7 linked regions of the Homo sapiens genome follow. The protein of the gene in region 3 interacts with the protein of the main gene of each other region in a pairwise test. Each region holds a gene or a part of one and is shown on either strand. Other genes may lie near its edges. The genes, in order: MAGEL2, QPRT, SUFU, ZNF763, ZNF114, BRAF and SLC41A3.

Region 1 (3,971 bases), on a different chromosome or scaffold from region 3:
AGATGCTTCTTCTTCCGGGTGGCCTTGCCGGAGCGGCGTGGCGGCTCGACGGAGGTCTTGGAGGCCTCTTGAGTGGTGGCAGTTGCCTGGGGGGCAGCTGCTGTAGCCATCAGGAAGGTGGGCACTGCCTGCGATGCCTTTGAGGCATTCATATTGGGCTGTGGGACCCATGGAACTGCAGGCAGGGCCTCTACACAGGCAAAGGGATCCTGCAGAGCATATGGCAGTGACTTTGGGGTCTCTGAGGCAGCAGAGGGGCCTTTAAAGGCATTCAGAGAGGCAGGCTGAAACTGGGAGGTAGCTGGGAAGACACTTGAGGAGGGAGCAAAGGTCTCCGGTGTGGCAGGCAGGTTTTTCCAGGCAGCTGGCAGGTGTGCTCGCGCAGCTGACACTGCCTTGGGAGCACAGAAGGTGGCAGCAAAGATCATGCGGTCTTTTGAAGGGGCCCTGCGCTCCTTCGAGGAGGTCCTGCGCTCTTTAGAGGAGCCCCTGCGGTCTATAGAAGAGGCCCTGCATTCTCCTGATGGAGTCATCAATGATTTAGCGGAGCCCAGGGGAAAATTTGCCGCTGCTACCGGGGGTCCGGGCTGGGCCTGCAAGACTGCAGGCGGTGCCTGCCAGGAAGGCTGGAGCGGCAGTGTGGGCACCTCCGCTTGCGGACCCGATGCCTGGGCCTGCTGGGGGGGTAGCTGGATTTGCACGGCTTTTTGGGAGGGCGGGGCTCCCTGAAAGGGCTGCTCCAGCTGGACCAAGGGGGGAGCCTGCCTCTGGGCCTCCTGGGCAGGCAGGGGCTGCCAGATGTGAGTGGGGGCCTTCTGGGCCTGCCAGGCCAGCGCCTGTGTCTGCTGCACCTCCTGGAATTCCATTGACGTTGGAATCTCGTGTGGCACCGGGGGCTGACCTTTGGGGGCCTGCCAGATGATGGAAGGGCAGTGCACAGCCTGCGGGGCAGACAGTGGGGCAGACAGCGGGGCCGGCAGCACAGGCTGGGGCACCTGCGGGCCAGCGGGCGGCGCCGCGGGTACCTGCGTAGCAGGTGGGGCCGTAGGCACCTGCGGCGCCGCCTGCACCTGCGGGGCCGGCAGCCTAGCCTGCGGGGCCTGCCGCAGTGGAGGTGGGGGTGGCAGGGCCTGCCAGAGCGGTGGCTGGGTGGCCAGGACCTGTGGGGCAGGTCGGATGGGCGGCGGCGCCTGGCGGATCAGCGGCGGGGCCTGGCGGATCACAGGTGGAGCCTGGCGGATCACAGGTGGGGCCTGGCGGATCACAGGTGGGGCCTGGCGGATCACAGCGGGGGCCTGGCGGATCACGGGTGGGGCCTGGCGGATCACGGGTGGGGCCTGGCGGATCACCGGTGGGGCCTGGCGGATCAGCGGTGGGGCCTGTCGCACCGGTGGTGGGCCAGGGCGGATGGGTGGTGGGCCAGGGCGGATGGGCGGGGGCCCCTGGCGCATGGGCGGCGGCACCTGCCAGGTAACGGCTGGTGCCTGCCAGGTGACCTGCGTGGTCTGCCAAGTCAGGGGAGTGGCCTGCCAGCCTTGCTGCGTGGCCTGCCATCCTGGCGAGGTCGCCTGCCAGCCCGGGGGTGTGGCTAGCTGCGCTGGGGGTGCCTGCGGGCCCTGGGGAACCTGCGGAGGAGCCCTTATAACTTGAGACTGGATTTGCAGGATCAGAGGCTGAGCCTGCGGGGCCCAAGAAGCCATCGGCTGTGCAGGTGGGGCCATCGGCTGTGCAGGTGGGGCCGCCGGCTGTGCCATCGGTGCTCCTGAAGCTGGAGGCTGGGTCATCGGAGCTCTCGCACCTGGAGGATGAATCATCAGGACTCCTGGACCTGGAGGCTTGGCCATCGGTGCTCCTGAAGGCTGAGGCTGGGTCATCATGGCTGCTGGAGGCGGCTGGACCATCGGTGCTCCCGGAGCAGCAGGCTGGACCATCAGGACTCCCGGAGTCAGAGGCTGGGCCATCAGGACTCCCGGAGCTGGAGGCTGGGCCATCGGTGTACCCGGAGGGGGAGGATGAGCCATCGGTGTCCCCGGAGGTGGAGGATGAGCCATCGGTGTCCCCGGAGGGGGAGGATGAGCCATCGGTGTCCCCGGAGGGGGAGGATGAGCCATCGGGGTCCCCGGAGGAGGAGGATGCACCATCGGGGTCCCCGGAGGAGGAGGATGGGCCATCGGGGTCCCCGGAGGAGGAGGATGGGCCATTGGGGTCCCCGGAGGGGGAGGGTGGGACATTGGGGTCCCCGGAGGAGGAGGATGGGCCATGGGAGCTCCGGGAGCTGAAGGATGCACCATCAGGACTCCCGGGGTCGGAGGCTGGGCCATCGGGGCTCCCGGAGGTGGAGGATGCACCATCAGGACCCCGGGAGTCGGAGGCTTACCCATCGGGCCCCCCAGCGGGGGAGCCGGGACTATCGGGCCCCCTAGGGCAGGAGGCTGGGTCATCGGAACCACCGGGGCGGGCAGCTGGCCCTGTGGGGCCTCCCAGGCAGGCTGAGGTGCCTGCCAAGCGGCCAATGAAGCCTGCAAGTCAATTGGAGGTGGATCCCAAGGGACTGGCGGAGCCCGGGAGGAAGCGGGCGGGGCCCGCATCAGAACCGTAGGGCGGCTATAGACAGGCGGCTTCGGGGCCTCCGCCGGAGGACTCGAGTCACCCAGATTCTTACTTAGCTGCGACATGTCCCTTTGCTGACAGCTGGTGGGTCTTTTCCTCGGACAGCTGCTGGGCCTTTTCCTCCAGAGAGAAGAGAATGCCTACGTGGCTGTTCAGAGGCTCCCTCCCTGCTGAATGCTGAATAGGAAGTGAGTGCTGCTCGCTCCGCAGCTTTCCGCAGTAAGGAGGAGGGGGGAAGGGGGCTCAATCCCGCCCCTTCCCCGCCCCCGACCACCACAAGTGGATATTGCATAGGGGCGTCTACCGGAGTCCTGGCTGACACAGGATCCCTTCTCACTCTGTCCAGTCCCCAAATGCAGACCAGTCAGACTCCACATGGATGACTTTTCACAGGGGAGTGACAGGAACCCATCCATGTTTTAGAAAAATCACTGTACTGCAGTGTGGAGTGGGAGCAGACCACTGGAAACATGGAAGGTATCCAAGACGGCGGGGGGAGATGGTGTGGTCTGGGCTAAGATGTGAGGCGGAGAATGAAAAAAGCGCATTTACATAAGAGAGTTCCAGGAGTTATAGCAGACAGATACCTGTATTATAATTGAATAAAGGAGTCAAAGACATGGAAAAGGCACACAAGTCCCTGCCTGGAGAAAGTGGGAAGTTGCAGGGACTGTTACTCTCTTAGGGTCCCAGGAGAGGCACACGGGAAGAGAGGCTGATGAGTATTGGCAGACACAGGGCATTTGCGGTGCTGTGGGACTGCCAAGGAGAGATACCCTGTAGGCACTCCTGTATGATGTCTTGGGAGTCCTGCTTGGCTATTCCTCATGAAAATAGAGTTGTGGGAGGGAATGTGGTTGCACTGGGTCTTGAAGAACACAGGCATGTTAGAGACACATGGAGAAAAGGGACAGCAGCGAGTAGAGAGAGAGGAAAAGAAGTCACGGAACTGAGACATGCCACACATCAGTGGAAGACAGCATTTTTAGTATGGGAAAACTGCCTGTGGAATGGCTCGGATGCAGGAACAGAGTAGGTTTCTCAGTATTTTTCATCTGCAGAATGGGAAAGAAATTTAAAAAATGAAAACCAAATAACGCACCTGAAGATAACAAAATGGGTATATAAATAGATCAAAAATTGATATATTTGGATATATAGGAAAAACAGGCAAAGAATAAAAAAATTTCTGGGGAAACTTCTCGTGACAAAAATCAGTTTAAATATGAGACAAATCAAGTATTAACAGATAAAGCAGATGACAATAGTATTATTGGGCAATGCTATACAACTTTATGGTGAGAGGAAGTGATAATCTCAGTAATTGAAAAGCTTTCTGGAAATATACAAAGCACTAAATA
Region 2 (3,500 bases), on a different chromosome or scaffold from region 3:
GAGGTTGCAATGAGCTGAGATTGCGCCATTGCAATCCATCCTGGGTGACAGAGTGCAATTCGGTCTCAAAAAAAAAGTTAAATTTAAAAACAAACAAAAGGCTGGGCGCGGTGGCTCACGCCTGTAATCCCAGCACTTTGGGAGGCTGAGGCAGGCGAATCACCTGAGATCAGGAGTTTGAGACCAGCCTGACCAATATTATGAAACCCCGTCTCTCCTAAAAATACAAAAATTAGCCGGGCATGGTGGTGTGCGCCTGTAGTCCCAGCTACTCGGGAGGCTGAGGCAGGAGAATCGCTTGAACCCAGGAGGCAGAGGTTGCAGTGAGTCAATATCGCGCCATTGCACTCCAGCCTGGCCAACAAGAGCGAAACTCAGTCTCAAAAAAAAAAAAAAAGAGAATAAAAACAAACAAAAAATTAGCCTGAGGTCAGGAGTTCAAGACCAGCCTGTCCAACATGGCAAAACCCTGTCCCTACTAAAAACACAAAACTTAGCTGGGTGTGGTGGCATGTGCCTGTAATCCCAGCTCCTCGGGAGGCTGAGGCACGAGAATTGCTTGAACCTAGGAGGCAGAGTTTGCAGTGAGCCGAGATAGCACCACTGTACTCCAGCCTGGGCGACAGAGTGAGACTCTGTCTTAAATAAATTAATAAACAAACAAATAAATAAAGTAACTTTGATGGGCTCACTCAGAGGTTCTGTCTATAGCCAAACCTCACTCAGGTTCCCTCAGCTCTTTTCCAGTTAGGCCTTGGACTTCCGTGTTCACCTCTGCATCGTCCAATTTTAGCAAGAATACTGCTAAGTCAGCTTAGCCAGTCCCTCATCCTCCACATCTGATTGCCCCCGATCCCTGATGGGGGTCCTCATTCTCCACTCTCCCCCAGGCGCTGTCTGACCACCTTGGCCTGCCCTCAGCAAGAATCCCTTTAGGTTGGTCTTGTCAGAATACCCCCAACCCCCAGTGCTTTCTCATGGTAATGTCCCATCCACTGCCCCCAACTCTGCTCGTTGGCTATAACCCCCATGGTGTAGAGTTCAGCCCAGTTCTGATCTAAGGTCACTCTTCCCCTACAGCAATAGTCTGGAATGCAATATGTTTTTGCTATTTTAACGACTGTCTAGTTCTGGTTTTCTTTGATCACTCTCCTGCTGAAAACTGACCTTTCATGGTTTCAGCTCCAGTTCTCTTGACTTTTTTCTTTCTTTCTTTTTGAGACAGAGTGGAATGCAGTGGTGCAATCATGGCTCACTGCAGCCTTGAACTCCCGGGCTCATGTGGTCCTCTCACCTCAGCCTCCTGAGTAGCTGCTCCACCATGCCAAGGTAATTTTTTTTTTTTTTAATAGAGACAGGGTCTCAAACTCCTGGCTTTTAAACATTTTTTTCTTTTTCTTTTTTCTGAGACAGTCTCACTTTGTTGCCCAGGCTGGAGTGCAGTGGCATGCAATGGAAAAGGGATGGACCCCCGAGCTTTGGCAATAAAAGTAGACTCACTGCAGCCTCTGCCTCCTGAGTTCTCCTGCCTCAGCCTCCTGAGTAGCTGGGATTACAGGCATGTGCCACCATGCCTGGCCAATTTTTGTATTTTAGTACATTTCTGTATTTTATAACAGCACGAGGAGGTCATTATTGTCATCCCTGTCACAGATTAGGAACCCAAGGCCCCTGAGGGTTGTCTCCAGTCCACAATCACTTAGTGACAAGTGGCAGAGCCAGGGCTGGACCTCAGGTGTGCGGCCCCAGAGCCTGGGCTCTGATTCACTGTGCTACGCAACCTCTCTGATGGGATAAGTATCCTAGCTCACATACTATGAAGCTAACCAATATAAAATTGCCAATATTTGGCCGTTTTGACCAATAAAAGCAGCACATTTATATGGTTCAGTATACGAAGCACTTGGATATAGCAGAAAACTCAATGGCCAGACACAGTCTTTGCCCATCGAGAGGAAACAGCCGTAGACTGTGATGATGGGGGAAGAACAGGAAGCACAGAGGGACCAGGATCTAACCTCCGGGCGTGTCTGTGAGGCCCCTGCTGAGGAAGTGATGTTTAAGGGAAGACCTGCAAGAGGAACAAGAGCTGAAGGGGGAGATTGGGGATGAGGATAAGGGAAGGGGCTTCCAGGCCAAGGCACAGTCCTGCAACAGCATAGGCTAAAGCCTGACAAGTAAGAGAAAGAGCTGCCCACGCTGTTGCCTCCATGCCTAGCAATTATTAACACCCCACACAGTGCAGGTGCTCAATGAGGATGTGTCAGAGAATCAGTGAAAAATGGAAAGAAGTTGCCAGGTGTGGAGGCTCATGTCTGTTAATCCCAGCACTCTGGGAAGCCAGGGTGGGAGGAAGACAAGGCCAGGAGTTGGAGGCTGGGCACAGTGGCTCACGCCTATAATCCCAGAACTTTGGGAGGCCGAGGCAAGTGGACCACTTGAAGTCAGGAGTTCAAGACCAGCCTGGCCAAGATGGTGAAACCCCGTCTCTACTAAAAATACAAAAAATAAAAAAAATTAAAAAAATAAAAAGCCGAGCGCCTGTAATCCCAGCTACTCGGGAGGCTGAGGCAGAGAATTGCTTGAACTTGGGAGGCGGAGGTTGCAGTGAGCCAAGATTGTGCCACCGCACTCCAGCCTGGGCGACAGAGCAAGACTGCGTCTCAAAAACAAAAAACAAAAGACTTTATGTTTGAAAGCCCTTAGGAACACTGTCTAGCACAGGGTAGGCGTGCTCGCGAAGAAAAGAAGCGTTTCTCAAGTGTGGTGGACTCATGGAATAAATGACTAGGTGTCTCTGAGGACCGGTGAGTGATGTTTGCCAGGCAGAGGTGTGGGGTGGGGCTGACATTTGGGGCTGAGAAAACTGATCTGTTCACCTGCAGACAGTGTCGGGGTGGGGGCAGTGTGGGATTCACAGGTGACATGGTGGGAGGAGAGGCCACAGGGAGAAAGAACTAAACTATTTAGCTGAGGAATTTGGCCAGATCGCAGAAGCCATCATAAAATTTCATTTTATTGGCCGGACACAGTGGCTCACACCTGTAATTCCAGCACTTTGGGAGGCCGAGGTGGGCCGATCACCTGAGGTCAGGAGTTCGAGTCCAGCCTGACCAACATGGTGAAACCCCGTCTCTACTAAAAATACAAAATTAGCCGGGCATGGTGGCACATGCCTGTAATCCCAACTACTCAGGAGGCTGAGGCAGGAGAATCGGTTGAACCCGGGAGGTGGAGGTTGCCGTGAGCTGAGATCCCACCATTGTATTCCAGCCTAGGCAACAAGAGCGAAACTCCATCTCAAAAAAAATTTTCTTTTCATTTTATTTTATTATTTTTAAGTAGAGACGGGGGGTCTCGCTATGTTGCCCAGGCTGGTCTTGAACTCCTGGGCTCAAGCAGTCCTCCCACCTCGGCCTCCCAAAGTGCTGGGATTACAAGTGTGATCCACCATGCCTGACCCATCACAGAATTTTAAAAGAGGGAGTGATATGATTATG
Region 3 (3,500 bases):
AATCCCCACCCTGCTCCCTGTATTCATTCGCACCACTTCCCAGGGTTACCAGCCTCAGAGTGGTCCCAGTGGTGGCCAAGGAGAGCCAAATGTCTCCCACCCCATCCCAGGATACACTGATTTGCCTACAGTTCTGTTTCTCCCATTCACCTGGGAGTTTCTGGTAGGGGAAGGGGAAGAGGCTGATGCCTCTTATTCCCTCTTTACTGTAGAACTTTGCATGCAGTCTGGCACACAGATGGAGCTCAATAAATGCTCACTGCCTGGGACTGATACCGGAACTTAGACACAGGGTCTGTCTTTTCTTTTTCTTTTGAGACGGAGTTTCGCTCTTGTTGCCCAGGCTGGAGTGCAATGGCGCGATCTCGGCTCACTGCAACTTTTGCTTCCCGGGTTCAAGCGATTCTCGTGCCTCAGCCTCCCGAGTAGCTGAGATTACAGGCATGCACCACCAAGCCCGGCTAATTATTGTATTATTAGTAGAGATGGGTTTTCTCCATGTTGGTCAGGCTGGTCTCAAATTCCCGACCTCAGGTGATCCACCTGCCTCGGCCTCCCAAAGTGCTGGGATTACAGACATGAGTCACTGCGCCCGGCCCAGGGTCTGTCTTTTCTAATTTGGCTAGGCCGGAAGTCAGGGCAGGGTGGAAAGGAGAGAACAGTGTTCTCAGCCTGCCTCGGTCTGGGGCTGGAGGCAGACGAGCCTGACCCTTCCTGGCTGCCTCCCTCTTCGCTCCCTCTGCTGGGGGACTGTCTCTGCCAGGACCAAAGTGGCGAGTGAGGCAGGGTGTAGGGACAGCCTCTGGACAGAAAAGGAAAAAAAGAAAAAAGTCATTTTTAGTGACCTACTTTCCTCTGCTCCCCCAGGCTTCTGTCCCTCTTGCCTGGACTGTCCCCCTCCTACCCCCAAGCTCAAAGCAGCAGCCTGGCACAGCGCCATCCCAGTGCGACAAGGCCTCTCCGGAAGCGCTTCTGGGCAGCTGGCTCTGGTCTGACTGAATGGGGAGCTGGGACTCAGGGACCAGTGACTTGTGGGGGTTGATTGGCTGGCATGGACTGGGTGCTTGATGGCTTTGGAATATATAAATGAACAAATTTCTCAAGCTGCATCCCAGAGGACAGAGGAGACCCTGCTCTATTGAGGTGACCCTGGCTCTGGGGAGTTCCTGTCCAACTGGAGACCTGGACTGGACGGTCCCGCCCTGTGCACTCCCCTCAGCTTCCTAAACACCAGAGGCCTGTGTCCTGGCTGTTGCAGCCCAGGGAGCCCTGGAAGCTGGAAGCTCCAGCCCTGGCTGGAACCTAGCTCCCGCCTGGCCTCCCTCTTGGTAGAAAGCCTGGCCCCTGGGAGGCGAAGGAGTTCTCCCCCAAGCACATTTCCTGGCAGACAGGACAAGGGAAGGGTCTGCCTCTGCCACAGGCAGGGCAGGGCCCAGGAGAGCTCTCCAGAGGCCCGGCCAGCCTGCTAGAGTTCACTAACCCATGGGGCACTGGGGCCAGGAAAGCTCCCATCCCACTGGGGTGCTGCGGGCAGGAGCGGGGGAGGGGAAGGGATTTTCCAGGATGAGGTAAGCCCTCGCAAATAAGGATGCCGGGAACAAGGGAGAAAAAACAAAGGGGATTATGGACTCCATTCCTCTACCCCAGAGGAGCAGCTAAAGAAGGCACAGCCACAGCTGGCCTGCCAGCTCCTCCAGCTCTGAGCCAGGGCTGGAAGAGGGAGACTAAGAGGCACAGCTCATGGCTGGAGGACGAAGAAGGGAGAGTGGCTCCTGGGTGGCCCGAGGCGAGAGCAGGAGTCCCTTGCTGCCCACCAGAACTCCCCAGCGGAATGTTCTCTGGCAACAGACATGGGCGTTCTGTTCAGAATCTGCCAGGGAACAGCAGGGGCTGGGGAGAACTCGTACTAGCCTGAAGGCCCTGGCTTCCTCTTCAATGAGGCTCTCAGGAGCTGGCAATTCAGACGATTTGCTGGGTGTCCTTACAAGGGCTGGGGGTAGGGCAGGGGATGGTGAGGGTGCATAGAAACAGAAGAGAAATCTACAGTCTCCTCTCCAGCCTATCCCTGCACCTTGGGGAGGAGCCCACAGATGCAGCCACACAGATACATGCAAGCACACACGCACCACAGGTACACACGCACACATGCATGCACAGACGTGCACACGCACGCACACACATGGTCCCAGAGACGGGACCTGTTGTCAGGAAAAGTCAAACAAGCTTACTTCCTCTGGAGAAGTCAAATCTTCTAAATCCTCCAACATTTTCTCTACAAACTCTTCGGTCAACAGAATCTGTGAAGGCACAAGGCAGGCTTTTATTATTATTTTTAAATGTATGATCTTTTTGCCAACCACCAAGCGTTATACCTCTCTTCTGACCATGGAGGAGAGATGAGCTCACTGTGATCTGTTCAAGGGACACAGGGAAGTGTTTGAGGCCTGTCCCCAGCTGTCATTCCCCCCACACCCTCACCTCCCTGCAATATCAGACTGAGGCATAGAAGGAAAGGGGTCAGGGGACAATGGGGAGGGGAGGGAGGACACTGGGAGAGCTGGGAATGCTGCTCCCAGAAGGGAGATGAACACTGGTGGGGCCGGTAAAAAGGAATCTCAGGAAGAAAAAGGAACAGAAAAGAAAAATTAAAAGGAAAAAAAATTAAATTAAAGCTGCTGCCCAGTCAGGCTCTAGTGTCCCCCTCTGCCCCTCACCGTAGAAGGACAAAAGGAAACTGTTTGGATTTGGAATACAAGCCCTATCTGGAATCTGGAAGTGCCCTGGAAGGTACATCCAAGAATGTCTGAGCTGGAGAATCTGGAGATTGTGGACCAACGTCTCATTTTACAGATGACAAAGGGACTCCCAACTTCCATTCCCATTCACAGTAGCCACATCCTCCCAGGCTGGAAGCTCCCAAGCCCCTGACCTGCTGTGCTCGATCAGCCACTGAGTTCCTCCAGCCTTCTTTGAGGTTCCTCTTCTCTAGGTCACCTCCCAGCATTCCACGTTGCTGTTCTAGTCTGACACCTCATTGCCTCTCGCTTTGATGCTGAGTCTGGCCCCACTATTTGGCTGGCACAAACACCAACTTCATCCGCTAAAGAAGTTTTCACAGCCAATACCAACGTCCAAGGGCTCTCAGGCCCTCTAAAACCGGCCTTCCTCAATCTGCTGGGCCATTCTTCCCCACCCACCCCTCTCGTCAGGCTGCTAGGCAGAGCCAGGCCAAGCTGATCCCAGGTCTGCACCCCACCACGCCCTGGGTGAGGGTGTCTTTCCTCTTCCAACTGTGACCCCTTCCTTCACCCCTCCCCCTCCCTGTCCTTGTCCCCAGGGCCTCCCAGCCTCCCTCCACTGCAGACCCTTCTGTACCCCCAGGCCACAGCTCTACCTGTCTTCTCCCGTACACCTTGAGCACCCAGGTAGGGCACAAAGGAAGAAAGATAATGGGGTGAAGATCCAGGTGAGGGGCTCCTCTGAGGGGAAACCCTCCCTGT
Region 4 (3,500 bases), on a different chromosome or scaffold from region 3:
AAGAAAAAAGTACTTCTAAAAACTGAAATAGAAGACAATGACTAAGAACAGCCAAGATGCTCTATAGAATATGGTTGGAGGGTGTTACGGCATGAATATTTGCATCACTCTAAAAAAATCACACATTAATAACCTACCCCCCACTATAGTATTAGAAGTTGACATCTCTGGGAATTAATTAGGATTAGATGAGAGCATAAAGGTAGATGCTTTCCGAATGAGATTAGTGCTCTTATAGGAAGACACAGGACAGCCAGCTTCCTCTCTTTTCTGTCATGTGAAGAAACCACAAGATGACCATCTGCAAACCAGGAAGCGGGCCATTACCAGACACTAGATCTGCCAACTCCCTGAACATGGACTTCACAACCTCAAGAACTGTCAGAAACAAATGTTTATTCTTTAAGTTACCCAGTCTATGGTAATTTGATGTAGCAGCCCAAGATGACTAAGATAGAGAAGCAATATCCCTACTATACACTGCAGCTTTGAACTCTACACTAATTAAGAGAAAATGGTATTAACAGAGAGATGGAAGGACAGACCAATGGAAAACAGCAAATTGTGAGACCAGGGCATCTAGTTTTTTAGTTTTTTTTTTATTTTTTGAAATGAGGTTTCACTCTCCTTGCCCAGGCTGGAGGGCAAAGGCGGGATCTCGGCTCACTGCAACCTCCACCTCCCAGGTTCAAGCGATTCTCCTGCCTCAGCCTCCCAGGTAGCTAGGATTATAGCCATGCGCTGCCATGCTCAGCTAATGCTGTATTTTCAGTACAGATGGGGTTTCACTATATTGGTCAGGCTGGTCTCAAACTCCTGACCTTAGGTGATCTGCCAGCCTCAGCCTCCCAAAGTGTGTGAGCCACTGCACCTGCTCTGGACATCTATTTAAGGTAATATGAAACTATGACAAACCAGGTATTGCCAGCCAATGATACAAGTGGTGAACACTTAACAGAAAAAGCAGGGACAAATGGTTATCTACAGGAGAATAATCAATCTACTACTCATCATCTCCATATACAATAATTTAATTAATTCTAGAGTTACCTGTTACAGTGAATTCTTTTATTTATATGTTACCTTAGCATGCATTTTCTTTATGGATTTAACGTTGTTATAACAGAAGAAAACTTTACTCAAACTCTGAACAGTTTCTGGTTCTCCACCTCCTCCCAGTTCCTCCATGTGGTTAACTCACATATGGGACTTACTCAGCTGCATTCTGGTGACCACCTCCCTGTGGGACAGCTAAATACATCCTTGTTGGAGTGGCCTTTCCTTGTCTTTTGGGATATTTCTCTCTTCACAGTTGAGACAATCCAGAGGACAGGAATCATCTCTGTTTTTCCTCATTAGCAACATCCGATTGGCAGAACAGCCATGTGTCTCCAATTAATGGAAAGTGGAGTTGGGAGACAGAAGCTGAGCACCCCAAGAATTGGTTATGTAGATGAAGAGTATACCAGGCATCTCCTCCACCATAAGGCATTCAGCTGCTCCCTCGGGAGGTCCCACTCCCCTAAGGCACTAATACCCATGAGACCCTCCAGGAGACATGGCAGTTGTGGGGATCTTGAGCCAGCCCCAGGCAATTCTAAAACCCAAAACCAGGAAAAGATAGGAGGGTGTACTGAAGACACATCACCCTGTAAAGTTTCCAGAAAGGAACCTCATCCCAAAGACATCCTGATAAGGTGTCTGTGTCTAGGAAAGATAAAAGGAGGAGAGGCAGAAAGGATTTTTCAGGCAAATGTCTAGTGGTTATTCTCTGCTTTCCTCTCATGTGAAATGTTCAGAAACAGATTTCACTGCAAGCCCTTGAAGAGTTAGGCTGTGGTATGAGGGTGGAGGATTTGAGACGCTGCATCCCATATATTTGGAAAATGTAAGGGGAAACCAGTTGCCCTGGAGAATGTGAAAAAATTTAAATAAGAAGCAATGAGGCCAAACTGTGTGAGGTGTCCTAAGGTCCTACCTAAGGATCCTGAAATCATATTTAAATACAACTCGTGAAAATTACTAATGTATAGGGAAATGAAATTTATGCTTAATCAGGCACAATCCACCAATTAACCGCTGATTACATAACTAGAAATTTTCTACCTATATAGGCTGTGTGAACAAGTAAGTCAGGCCCGGTGCAGTGACTCCCACCTGTAATCCCACCACTTTGGGAGGCCAAGGTGGATGGACCACTTGAGGACAGAAGTTCAAGACCAGCCTGGCGAACGTGATAAAACGCTGTCTTTACTAAAAATAGAAAAATTAGCCGAGTGTGGTGGCACGCACCTGTAATCCCAGCTACTGGAAAGGCTGAGGCCAGAGAATTACTTGAACCCAGAAGGCAGAGGCTGCAGTGAGCTGAGATCACGCCGCTGCACTCCAGCCTAGCCGACAGAGTGAGACCCTGTCTCAAAACAAACAAACAAGCAAAAACAACCAAGTAATTCAAAAATTTAAGCTGATGAATCTCTACATCATCTTGAAGCAATGTGATCATGGGGTTGAGTCACATGACACACAACTTTCACCTAGCTAGCTGGAACCCTCCTTTCCCTGATTACAGATTTGCCTTCTTTCTTACCTATAGTGTTTTGTAAAATGTTGTAAATGACTGAAGGGAAACAGGAAAGACCCTTTCCCTTGTCACTGTCTTTTTAAATTTAATATGATTTTTCACAATTGAGATGGGGTCTCACTATGTTGCCAGGCTGGTCTTCAACTCCTGAGATCAAGCCATCCACCTGCCTCGGCCTCCCAACGTGCTGGGGTTACAGGTGTGAGCCATCCCGCCAGGCCCCTCTCTACTACTGATCTCTATAGTACACTAATTTCCCTCTTAACTTTCTCACACAAAGACTCCATGGCTATCATGTTGTCTTCAGCTAGAATATTAAATTCACTTTTTTAAATTGAAAAGGAAATATAAACCAGCTAGAAAGAAAAGAAAACAAGCTCTGGGGGAAAAAAGCAAACCACTACAAATTAAGTTGTTATCCACATGCATTTGCTCATGTCTATAATCCCAGCACTTTTGGAGGCCAAGGAAGGAGGACTGTTTGAGGCCAGGAGCAAGAGACCAGCCTGAGCAACATATCGAGACCCCACCTCTGTAAAATACAAAAAATTAGCCAGGTGTGCTGGTGGGCAACTGTACTCTCAGCTACTGGGAAGGCTGAGGTGCTTGAGCTGGGGAGGTCAAGGCTGCAGTAAGCCATGATCGCACCACTGCTCCAGCCTGGGCCACAGAGCTAGACATTGTCTCAAAGAAAAAAAAAAATTAAATTATTGTACCTCATACATCAGCCTTCTATGGAAAATGTAATCCTGTTACATTTATTTGCCTTTTGCCTATATAAGTGTTAGGGAAGCAAGTGCCTAGGGGAGCCAGAGAAAGACCAATCAGCTCCATCTTGAGACTAACAAGAAACACTCCTTGCCAGTCACAACCCATGGTCATAACATGTTTGACATTAAGAAAACAGCCTGAAGATGCC
Region 5 (3,500 bases), on a different chromosome or scaffold from region 3:
CAAATGTCTACTCAAGATGAATGAAGATGAAAGGCTTTCTGTAGACTTTACCTTCACAGGGTTTTTTTTCACATTTCTGTAAGATACGAGAGTTCAGGGAAGATGTTCTCACTCATGCTAACCCCTTGAGCTCCCTTCCAATATGTCCTCCTCACATGTTTGGTACAGTCAGAAAATTAATGAAAAATTTTCCACCTTCCTTTCATTCACAGGGCTTCTCATCTTTGTGAGTCTTAAGATGTTTTTTAAGTCCTGACGACTTTGCAAAGTCTTTTCCACATGTCTTACATTTATAGGGTTTCTCTCCAGTGTGGCTCCTTATATGTGTATATTTTGAGGACTCCCGAATGACTTTCCCACATTCTTCACATTCGTAGGGCTTCTTCTGCACAACATGCTTTCTTAAATGTTTATTAAGGTGTAAGGAATATCTAAAGGCTTTCCCACATTTCCCACATTCATACGGTTTCTCTCCAGTGTGAATTTTCATATGTCTCATAAGGAATGACTGATAAAAAAAGGCTCTCCCACATTCGGGGCATTTATGGGTTTTCTCTCCAGTGCAATGACTCTTGTGTGAACCGGAATTTGGAGCGTTGGCAGAGGTTGCCCCAGTTTGACAATCCTTCTTGTTTGTCTCTGCGGTATACAACTGCATCTGCATGGCGTGAATTGAGTTATTTCTGGAGGTGTTCTCGCACTGAGTAAAATCATACATTTTCTCTCGACCATGAGTGTTGTGTGCCCTAAGGGATCCGTCTTCACGGAAAGCTTTTCCAAATGGATTCCGCTGGTGCCTGTTGGCCCCCGTATCAATTTCATCACGTATATGATGCACAGTGTTCTGACTGCCAGTCCATGTGCTTGATTTCAGCTCTGTTTTTCTCCCACACGGAACCCACTGAATGTTCCACCCCAAGACTCCATCGTCTTCGTTGTTTTCATGTGTTTTTTGACTATCGTTTAAGACAGGATTATACTTGAAAATACTTGAGTCACGTGTTAGGATACATTGTCTTATGGAATCTCCCTGTGAAGGCACAAGCCTGCAGGTAGGTTTAGAGTGGTTCCTCATTTCATGATCTTCACAAATGCTAACAGGAGATTCATCTTTCTCAGGGGCAACTGCAGGTGGCTTCACATTATTCACCCCCTGCCTGTGTGGTTCCTCTGTTTTGGGGCATCTCCAGTCTTCTCTTAATGTGGAGTGCTGGGAACTGATGCTCGTGAGACACACTCTGTTGGCTTCAGGAAATGTTCTTTTAGGAAGAATATCCGGCTGAGGGGTTGCGTCTTTGGTTTTACATGGAGTTGCCCAATCTGAAATACAGTGGCACAAAAGTTAAATTCTTTGTTGAAAGTAAAGGTGGGTTAGAGATGATGACATAGGCAATCTCCGTGTGGATTTCTCTCTTTCTTTCTTTCTTTCTTTCCCTCCCTCCCTCGCTCCTTCCATCCTTTCTTTCTTCCTTCCTTCCTTCCTTTCTTTCTTTTCTCTTTCTTTCCCTTCCTTCCTTCCTCCTTCCTTCCTTCCTTCTTTCCTCTCTCTCTCTCTCGTTCTCTCTGTCTTTCTCTCTTTTCTTTAGACAGAGTCTTACTCTGTGGCCCAGGCTGGAGTGCAGTGGCATGATCTTGGCTCATTACAACCTCCGCCTCCCAGGTTCAAGCAATTCTCTGGCCTCAGCTTCCTGAGTAGCTGAGATTACAGGTGCGTGCCACCATGCCTGGCTAATTTTTGTGTTTTCAGTTGAGATGGGGTTTCACCATGTTGGCCAGGCTGGTCTTGAATTCCTGGCCTCATGTGATCCACCTGCCTCAGCCTCCCAAAGTGCTGGGATTACAGGCATGAGCCAACGCGCCAGGCCTCTGTGTGGATTTCTTTCTAAATGTTCACTCAACATGTATGATAAAAATGTGAAGGGGAAGAAAGCAAGAGGAAGGAAGCAGAGAAAGACATCAGAGATTCTGCAGTGTCAGGAATGTGATGACGGTAAGGTCAGGGGTTCAACATGGAGAGTGTCATGTTACTGAGGAACAGTTCTGCAGAGATCAAGGAAACGATCAGGAATTCTAAGTGGAAGAGAATTGGACAGAGAGTCCATGTGAAATTTTTATTTTTTTGAGATGAGGGTGTCACTAGGTTGCCCAGGTGCTGGAGTGCAGTGGCTGGCTATTCATAGGTGTGATCACAGCACACTGCAGCCTTGAGCTCTTGGGATCAAGTGATCCTCTTGCCTCAGTCTCCCGAGTAGCTGGCTCCATGTGCAATTTTAAGGAGAAAAGGAACAGGCCTTTAGCAGGGAAAAATGAAAATATGAGAGGATGGATAAAAGTCAAAAAACATAAGCTTGGACAGGCACAGTGGCTCACGCCTGTAATCCCAGCACTTTGAGAGGCTGAAGTGGGTGGATCACCAGAGGTCAGGCGTTTGAGACCAGCCTGGCCAATGTGGTGAAGCCCCGTCTCTACTAAAAATAGAAAAATTAGCTGGGCATGGTGGCGTGTGCCTGTAATCCCAGCTACTCAGGGGGCTGAGGCAGGAGAATCACTTGAATCCGGCAGGCAGAGATTGCAGTGAGCTGAGACTGAGCCACTGCACTCCAGCCTGGGCAACAGAGTGCCTGTTTTTTTCTTTCTTTTTTTTTCCTTTTAATTAAAAAAAAATTGTTTTTAAAGACAAAAAGAACAGTGTTTTGCCATGTTGGCTGGGCTGGTCTCGACTTCCTGGCCTCAAGTAATCCTCCTCCTGCCTCAGCCTCCCAAAGTGCTAGGATTACAGGTGTGAGCCACTGTGCCTGGCCTATAGGTCTCCTTAGCTGCTCTGTAGATAACAACTTGAAAATTATAAAACATTAAGTTTTCTCTTTGAGATATTCCTTCAGGTCCTGCATTCTGATGAAATGACTATGCTCACTGATCTGAGGAATGCCGTGAGAAACTGACGCACCAAAGAATGTACTTTCCTCATCCCGATGATTTCATCCCCCTTCCTCTGACCAATCAACGTCTCCAATTCTCCAGTCCCTTATCCTCCATGATCCCCTTAAAAATGAGAGCAGTGGCTCATGCCTGTAATGCCAACACTTTGGGAGGCCGAGGTGGGCGGAGCACTTGAGGTCAGGAGTTTGAGACAAGCCTGGCCAACACAGTGAAACCCCGTCTCTACTAAAAATACAAAAATTAGCCAGGTATGGTGGTGCATGTCTATAATCCCAGCTACTCGGGAGGCTGAGGCAGAAGAATTGCTTGAACCCGGGAGGTGGAGGTTGCAGTGAGCCGAGATCGCGCCACTGCACTCCAGCCTGGGCAACAAGAGTGAAACACAGTCTCAAAAACAAAAAAAAAACAAAAACCCCAGAACCCCCCAGGGAGAAGAATTTGAGCGTCTCCTCCCATCTCCTCGGTTGGCACCATGTAATCATGCAACTTTCTCTTTTCTCTGTTGCAAACCCTGCTGTCTCAGTGGCGAGCCTGTTGCTCTGTTACCATGCTGCTGGCTT
Region 6 (3,500 bases), on a different chromosome or scaffold from region 3:
GTAATGTTGAAACTACAATTACCAGGCCCTATGGAATTTTGCTTAAAAGTAGGAAACTATAAAACTTTTTTATCAGAGTAGTTAACATTTTTTTCAAATTTATGGATTACTTATGATACTTTCAATTAGGAAAATGACTAAAACTGTCACTAAAATTTAAAAAAAACTTCATGTGAGTTAATGGGTGCAGCACACCAGCATGGCACATGTATATATATGTAACTAACCTGCACACTTTGCACATGTACCCTAAAACTTAAAAGTATAATAATAATAAAAAAAGAAAATGATATTTTATTAAAATCATCAAAAAAAAAAAACTTTATGTGAAACAGCTGTAACGTCAACACTGCCAGTAGGTGTTTAAATTGGTACAACTACTTTGTAACATTGTTGGCAGCATTACTAAAACTGGACATATGCATACCCTGTGGTCTCACAATTCTGTCCTAGGTATATATACCCATCAATGGTTACATGTTCACCAAAAGACATACACTAAAAATGTTTACAGCACCAGCATCAATCAAAGCCCCAAACTGGAAACGATCCAATTGCAACAGATGAAAGAAGAAATCATGTTATAGTCACACAATGAAATACTGTAAAGAGAATGAATGACCTCCAACTTCACACAACAATATAGATGAATCTTATAAACAATGTTGAGTGAAAAGGGCCGACACAAAAGAGTACACACTATGCACTTCCTGTTGTAATCACAGTGGTGGTTACCCTTGGGAGAGAGGTGATTGGCTAGAAGAGGACATGGGAGGGTGTTTCTAGAGTGCTAGTAATGTTCTGTTTATTTAATTTTTTTAGAGACAGAGTCTTGCTCTGTCACCTAGGCTGGATGGAGTGCAGTGGTGTGATCATGGCTCACTGCAGCCTTGAACTCCTGGGCTCAAGCCATTCTCCCACCTCAGCCTCCTCAATAGCTGGGAGTACAGGCACATGCCACCATGCCTGGCTAATTTATGTGCACTTTTATACACAGGCTGAGTATCCCTTATCCAAAATGCCTGGGACCAGAAGTGTCTCAAATTTCAAATTTTTTCTGATTTTGGAATATTTTGATTATACTTACCAGTTTAACATCCCTAATCCAAACATATGAAATCCTCCAATAAGCATTTCCTTTGAGCATCATGTCAGCACTCAGAAAGTTTTGGATTTTGGAGCATTTCGGGTTTGGGATTTTGGATTAAAGATACCCAACCTGGCCAGGTGTGCTGCCTCACACCTGTAATCCCAGCACTTTGGAAGGCCAAGGTGGGTGGCTCACCTGAGGTCAGGAGTTTGAGAACAGCCTGGCCAACATGGCAAAACTCGTCTCTACTCAAAATACAAAAATTAGCCAGGGGTGGTGGTACGCGCCTATAATCCTAGCTACTCAGGAGGCTGAGGTAGGAGAACTGCTTGAATCTGGGAGGCAGAGGTTGTAGTGAGTTGAGATTGTGCCACTGCACTCCAGCCTGGGCGACAGAGCGAGACCTTGTCTCAAAACAAAACAAAACAAACAAAAATAAATAAATAAAGATACTCAACCTGTATGTATATTTTAATAAGTTAAATCAACATTGATTTTCCTCAATTATCAAAGTAATACAGTGCTTATTCTACTGTTTGTATCATAAAATACTGTACAGCACTTAAGAAAAGTTTAAAGACATTTTGAAGGTATAAAAAAATTCCCTTAATTATGTCACTCAAAAGTGACATTATATGTTATTAGGCTTTTACATGAATTTAGTGTGAATATTTATGAACACCTGTGAAAAGATAGATTAAGGAGATAAAAACTAAAACACAGTCTTTTTTTTTTTTTTTTTTAAGACAGTCTCGCTGTTATCCAGGTTGGAGTGCAATGGCGGGATCTCGGCTCACTGCAACCTCCACCTCCTAGGTTCAAGCAATTCTCCTGCCTCAGCCTCCTGAGTAGCTGAGATTACAGGCGCCCACCACCAAGCCTGGCTAATTTTTTGTATTTTTAGTAGAGATGAGGTTTCACTATGTTGGCCAAGCTGGTCTCGAACTCCTGACCTTGGGTGATCCACCTGCCTCGGCCTCCCAAAGTGCTGGGATTACAGGCGTGAGCCACTGTGCCTGGCCTAAAATACTGTCATATAAAAAATTATGTTATATATTTCTATGAGCTCCATAATATGGTATCTTACACATACTGCTTTGAAAAATTTCATATACCAAAGACACCTTTCTACATCAATAAATGTACCTCTACCATGCCATTTTAACTCCTATATAATCACATATGATGGTATAAATTTATCCAATTCTCTATTAGTTGGATACATGTTCACTTTCACTTTTCATTGATATTAAACCTTTGATGAAAATACATCCACTACTCTTAATATAATCCAATTTAAAAAGATTTTGTCCAACTAAGAGGCAAATAATGATGTCTATTTTTTGAATTTGCAATTCTTTGATAACTAGTAAGGCTGAACATTTTGTATATGTTTACTGGCCACTTATATTTCTTTGTTAATTTTTTTTTTTTGAGACGGAGTCTCACTGTCACCAGGGTGGAGTGCAGTGGCGTAATCTCAGCTCACTGCAACCTCCGCCTCCTGGGTTCCAGTGATTCTCCTGCCTCAGCCTCCCAAGTAGCTGGGACTACAGGCACGTGCTTCCACACCCAGCTAATTTTTGTATTTTTAGTAGAGATGGGGTTTCACCATGTTGGCCAGTATGGTCTTGATCTCCTGACCTCGTGATCAGCCAGCCTCAGCTTCCCAAAGTGCTGGGATTACAGGCATAAGCCACTGCGCCCAGCCATTAAGTACATTTTTAATATGTTTACTTGTGACTTATAATACAAATAAAATTATCAGCTGAAAGACTCTAAAAGAAAATAAAATCCTTTTGAGGACTAGTTAACCTGGAGGAATTCCCCTTTAAAAATTATTACTGTAATAAAATGGTAGGAGTCCCGACTGCTGTGAACAGTTTTTATTTCCCATAATTTTTGTTAGAAACTTTTGGAGGAGTCCTGAAACTAATCAAAATAGTTTATTGATGCGAACAGTGAATATTTCCTTTGATGATATTTTTTACAAAATAAAAGTTGTTAAACATATCCTATTATGACTTGTCACAATGTCACCACATTACATACTTACCATGCCACTTTCCCTTGTAGACTGTTCCAAATGATCCAGATCCAATTCTTTGTCCCACTGTAATCTGCCCATCAGGAATCTCCCAATCATCACTCGAGTCCCGTCTACCAAGTGTTTTCTTGATAAAAACAGTAAAAAAGTCAAGTCAAGCCAAACAGAAAAAGAAAACCTTATGTTTCACCCTAAGTACATTACCTTATGCCTGAGAGGGATACAGGAAGAGATCCCCTTAAGAAAAATTCTCTGGAAGAATAGTAGTTAAAAGTATGACTCTTAAAATACAAAACTTAAATTTAAGACTGAAGTCAATATTAGGATGGAAAAAATTTATTTTTATTTTTTATTTTATTATAC
Region 7 (3,500 bases), on a different chromosome or scaffold from region 3:
AAGAATTCTTAACTAGCAAAATTATCTTTTCAAAGTAAAGGAGAAATTAAGAGATTTTCAGATAAACAGACACAGAGCATTCGTCCCCAGCACACCTGCCCTAAAGGAAACACGAAAGGGAGTCTTTAAGGCCGAATTAGGATCCTAGACACTAGCTAGAATCCACACAGAGGAAGGAAGAGCATCGGCAAAGGTAACCACCTAGACAGATTTTTTTTTTTAAGTATAAACACATTTTTGTTAGTAACTCTTTTTACTCTTATCCAATTTAAAGACAACCACATAAATCAAGTTGGAATTAAGTTGTTATTGATCCAAACACGATTATTATAAACCAAGGTGCTGATTGTAATCCTCAGGGCAACTGCTAAGAAAAAAAAATATAAAAGAAATAACAAGTGAATAAAAGTGATACACTAGGAAAGATCTACTTAGTACAAAACAATGCAGTAATGGGGAAACAGGGAAAAAAGACATTAGACAGACAGAAAACAAATAGCAAAATGGCAGACATAAATCCCATCTTATCAATTATTACATTAAGTATAAATGGATAGGTTGGAAGTAAAAGGATTTAAATAAATATACCATGCAAACAATAACCAAAAGATAACTGGAGTGGCTTTAATACTATTAATAATATCAGGCAAAACAGACATAAAAACAAGAATTCTTACTACAGACAAAGAAGGATATTTGATAATGATAAAAGGGTCAATCTATCAAGAAGCTATAACAATTACAAACGTACATATGCCTAACAACAAAGCCCCCAAATACATAAAAGTGGCAGAACTGAAGGAAGAAAAAGACAATTCAATAATAATAGTTGGACATACCTCACTTCCAACAATTGATAATACAATTTGACAGAATTTCAACAAAAGAAAGAGGACTTCAACAACATTATAAACCAATTAGATCAAACACATCTATACAAAACACTCCGCGCAACAATAGCAGAATACTCAATCTTATCAAGTGCACATGGAACATTTTGCAGGCTTGATCTATCTTAGGAAAAATAACTTCAATAATTTAAGACTGAAATCATACAAAATATGTTTTCCAACCACAACAAAATAAAATTAGAAATCAATAACAGAAGGACATTTAGGAAATTTATAAATATGCGGAAATTAAACAACTTTTTTTTTTTTTTTTGAGATAGGGTCTTATTCTGGCACCCAGGCTGGAGTGCAATGGCATGATCACAGCTCACTGCAGCTTAGACCTCTGGGGCTCATGTAATCCTCCCTTCTCAGCCCCCCAAGTAGCTGGGACTACAGGTGTGTGCCACCATGCCCAGCTAAATTATTTTTTAAAGTTTTGTAGAGATGGGATATCACTGTGTTGCTCAGGCTGGTCTCAAACTCCTGAGCTCAAGTGATCTGCTCACCTCGGCCTCCCAAAGTGCTAGGATTACAGGCATGAGCCACCATGCCCCAGCCCATACTCTTAAATAAGTAATGGGTCAAAGACAAAAATCACAAGATAAATTAGAAATTTCTTTGAGATGAATGAAAATGAAAATACAACATGCCAAAAAATCATGGCATGTGTTAATGTAGTGCTTAGAGGGAAGTTTATAGCTATAACTATCAATTTCTTTAAAAAGAAATGAACAAATTAATAAATCAATTTTCCACCTTAAGATAAAGAGGAGCAAACTAAACCCAAAAAAGTAGAAGGCAGGAATTAATATAGATTAGACTGGTAATAAATGAAAGAGAATTGTAAAAAAAAATAAAAAAAAAAAAAGGCCAGCAAAACCAAAAGTTGGGTCCTTGAAGAGATCGACAAAACTGACAATCCTTTATGTAGACTGATGAAGAAAAAAAGACAGAAGACTCAAATAGTTAAATTAGGAATGAAAGAGGAAACATTACAACCAAAACTAAACATAACTATAAGAGAATATATGATTAACTGTAAGCCAACAAATTGGAAAAGCCACCAGTCAGAATGGCTATTATTAAAAAGTCAAAAAATAACAGATGCTGGTGAGGTTGTAGACAAAAGGGAATGCTTATACACTGCTTGTGGGAATGTAAATTAGTTCAGCCATTGTGGAAAGCAGTGGAGGTGATTTCTCAAAGAACTTAAAACAGAAGTACCATTCAACCCAGCAATCCCATTATTGGGTGTATACCCAAAGAAATATACATCATTCTACCATAAAGACACACGCACAGGTATGTTCATCGCAGCACTATTCACAATAGCAAAGACACAAAATCAGCCTAATGCCTGTCAACAGAAGACTGAATAAAGAATATGTAGTACATATGCCCATGGAACACTATGCAGCCATGAAAAAACAAGATCATGTCATCTGCAGCAACATGGATGGAACTGGAGGCCATAATCCTAAACAACCTAATGCAGAAACAGAAACCCAATACCATGTTTCACTTATAAGTGAGAGCCAAACATTGGGTACACATGCATATAAAGAAGGGAACAACAGACACCAGGGCCTACTTGAGAACAGAGGGTGAGAGGAGAAAGAGGATCAAAAAAACTACCTATCTGGCCAGATGCAGTGGCTCATGCCTGTAATCCCAGCACTTTGGGAGGCCGAGGCAAGCAGATTGCTTGAGCTCAGGAGTTGAAGACCAGCTTAGGCAAGATGGTGAAACCCTCTACAAAAAATACAAAAATTAGCCAGTCATGGTGGAGTGTACCTGTAGTCCCAGCTACTCAGGAGGCTGAGGCAGGTGGCGCTTGAGCGTGGGAGGCGGAGGTTGCAGTGAGCCGAGATTGCACCACTGCACTCCAGCCTGGGTGGCAGAACAAGACCCTGTCTCAGAAAAAAAACAAAAACAAACAAACAAAATCCAAAAAACTACTTATTAGGTACTATGTTTATTACCTGGGTGACAAAATCATCTGTACACCAAACCCCCATGATACCTAATTTATAACAAACCTGCACATGTACCCCTGAACCTAAACGTTAAAAAATAAATAAAGCTAAAAAAATTAGAAAACCTAGATGAAATGTACAAATTCCTAGAAACACAAACTAGTAATACTGACTCGTGAAGAAATAAAAAATATTAATAGATCTACAGATAAAGAGATTGAATTAGTAATCAAAAAACTTCCCACAAAGAAAAGCTTAACACCAGATGGCTTCACTAGAGAAGTCTACCAAGCATTTAAAAAAAAATAACACAAATCCTTCATAAACTCTCAACAACAAATTGGAGAAGGGAACACTTCCCAACCGCTTGTATGAGACCAGTGTAAAGACAACCCAAGAAAGCTACAGACCAATGTGTGTTATGAATACAGACACAAAATCCTCAGCAGAATACTAATAAACTCAAGCCACTAGTACATACAAAGACTTTTACAATATAACCAAGTGGGATTTATTTCAGGAATGCAAAGTTGGTTCAATATATGAAAATCAATGTAATACACCAAATTAATAGAATAATGGGGAGAAAACATAGCTCAACAGACACAGAAAAAGCATTTGGCAACAACTA

Evidence for each region.
Region 1: the proteins of SUFU (region 3) and MAGEL2 interact in binary tests that used the Homo sapiens proteins (3 or more experiments, as listed by UniProt).
Region 2: the proteins of SUFU (region 3) and QPRT interact in a two-hybrid assay, tested with the Homo sapiens proteins (one large-scale study listed by BioGRID and IntAct).
Region 4: the proteins of SUFU (region 3) and ZNF763 interact in binary tests that used the Homo sapiens proteins (3 or more experiments, as listed by UniProt).
Region 5: the proteins of SUFU (region 3) and ZNF114 interact in binary tests that used the Homo sapiens proteins (3 or more experiments, as listed by UniProt).
Region 6: the proteins of SUFU (region 3) and BRAF interact in a protein complementation assay, tested with the Homo sapiens proteins (one large-scale study listed by IntAct).
Region 7: the proteins of SUFU (region 3) and SLC41A3 interact in binary tests that used the Homo sapiens proteins (3 or more experiments, as listed by UniProt).

The regions. Positions count from the first base shown.
Region 1 is NC_000015.10:23,645,068-23,649,038, forward strand, and holds the start of MAGEL2 (MAGE-like protein 2), read right to left. Parts: upstream 2,801-3,971; 5' UTR 2,676-2,800; coding exon 1-2,675. UniProt on the Homo sapiens protein: Probably enhances ubiquitin ligase activity of RING-type zinc finger-containing E3 ubiquitin-protein ligases, possibly through recruitment and/or stabilization of the Ubl-conjugating enzyme (E2) at the E3:substrate complex.
Region 2 is NC_000016.10:29,685,680-29,689,179, reverse strand, and holds part of QPRT (nicotinate-nucleotide pyrophosphorylase [carboxylating]), read right to left. Parts: intron 1-3,500. UniProt on the Homo sapiens protein: Involved in the catabolism of quinolinic acid (QA).
Region 3 is NC_000010.11:102,625,972-102,629,471, reverse strand, and holds part of SUFU (suppressor of fused homolog), read right to left. Parts: intron 2,298-3,500; coding exon 2,229-2,297; intron 1-2,228. UniProt on the Homo sapiens protein: Negative regulator in the hedgehog/smoothened signaling pathway. Down-regulates GLI1-mediated transactivation of target genes. Down-regulates GLI2-mediated transactivation of target genes. Part of a corepressor complex that acts on DNA-bound GLI1.
Region 4 is NC_000019.10:11,968,040-11,971,539, reverse strand, and holds part of ZNF763 (zinc finger protein 763), read right to left. Parts: intron 1-3,500.
Region 5 is NC_000019.10:48,283,581-48,287,080, reverse strand, and holds part of ZNF114 (zinc finger protein 114), read right to left. Parts: intron 1,321-3,500; coding exon 203-1,320; 3' UTR 1-202. UniProt on the Homo sapiens protein: May be involved in transcriptional regulation.
Region 6 is NC_000007.14:140,778,430-140,781,929, forward strand, and holds part of BRAF (serine/threonine-protein kinase B-raf), read right to left. Parts: intron 3,265-3,500; coding exon 3,147-3,264; intron 1-3,146. UniProt on the Homo sapiens protein: Protein kinase involved in the transduction of mitogenic signals from the cell membrane to the nucleus. Phosphorylates MAP2K1, and thereby activates the MAP kinase signal transduction pathway. Phosphorylates PFKFB2.
Region 7 is NC_000003.12:126,070,625-126,074,124, forward strand, and holds part of SLC41A3 (solute carrier family 41 member 3), read right to left. Parts: intron 1-3,500. UniProt on the Homo sapiens protein: Na(+)/Mg(2+) ion exchanger that acts as a predominant Mg(2+) efflux system at the mitochondrial inner membrane.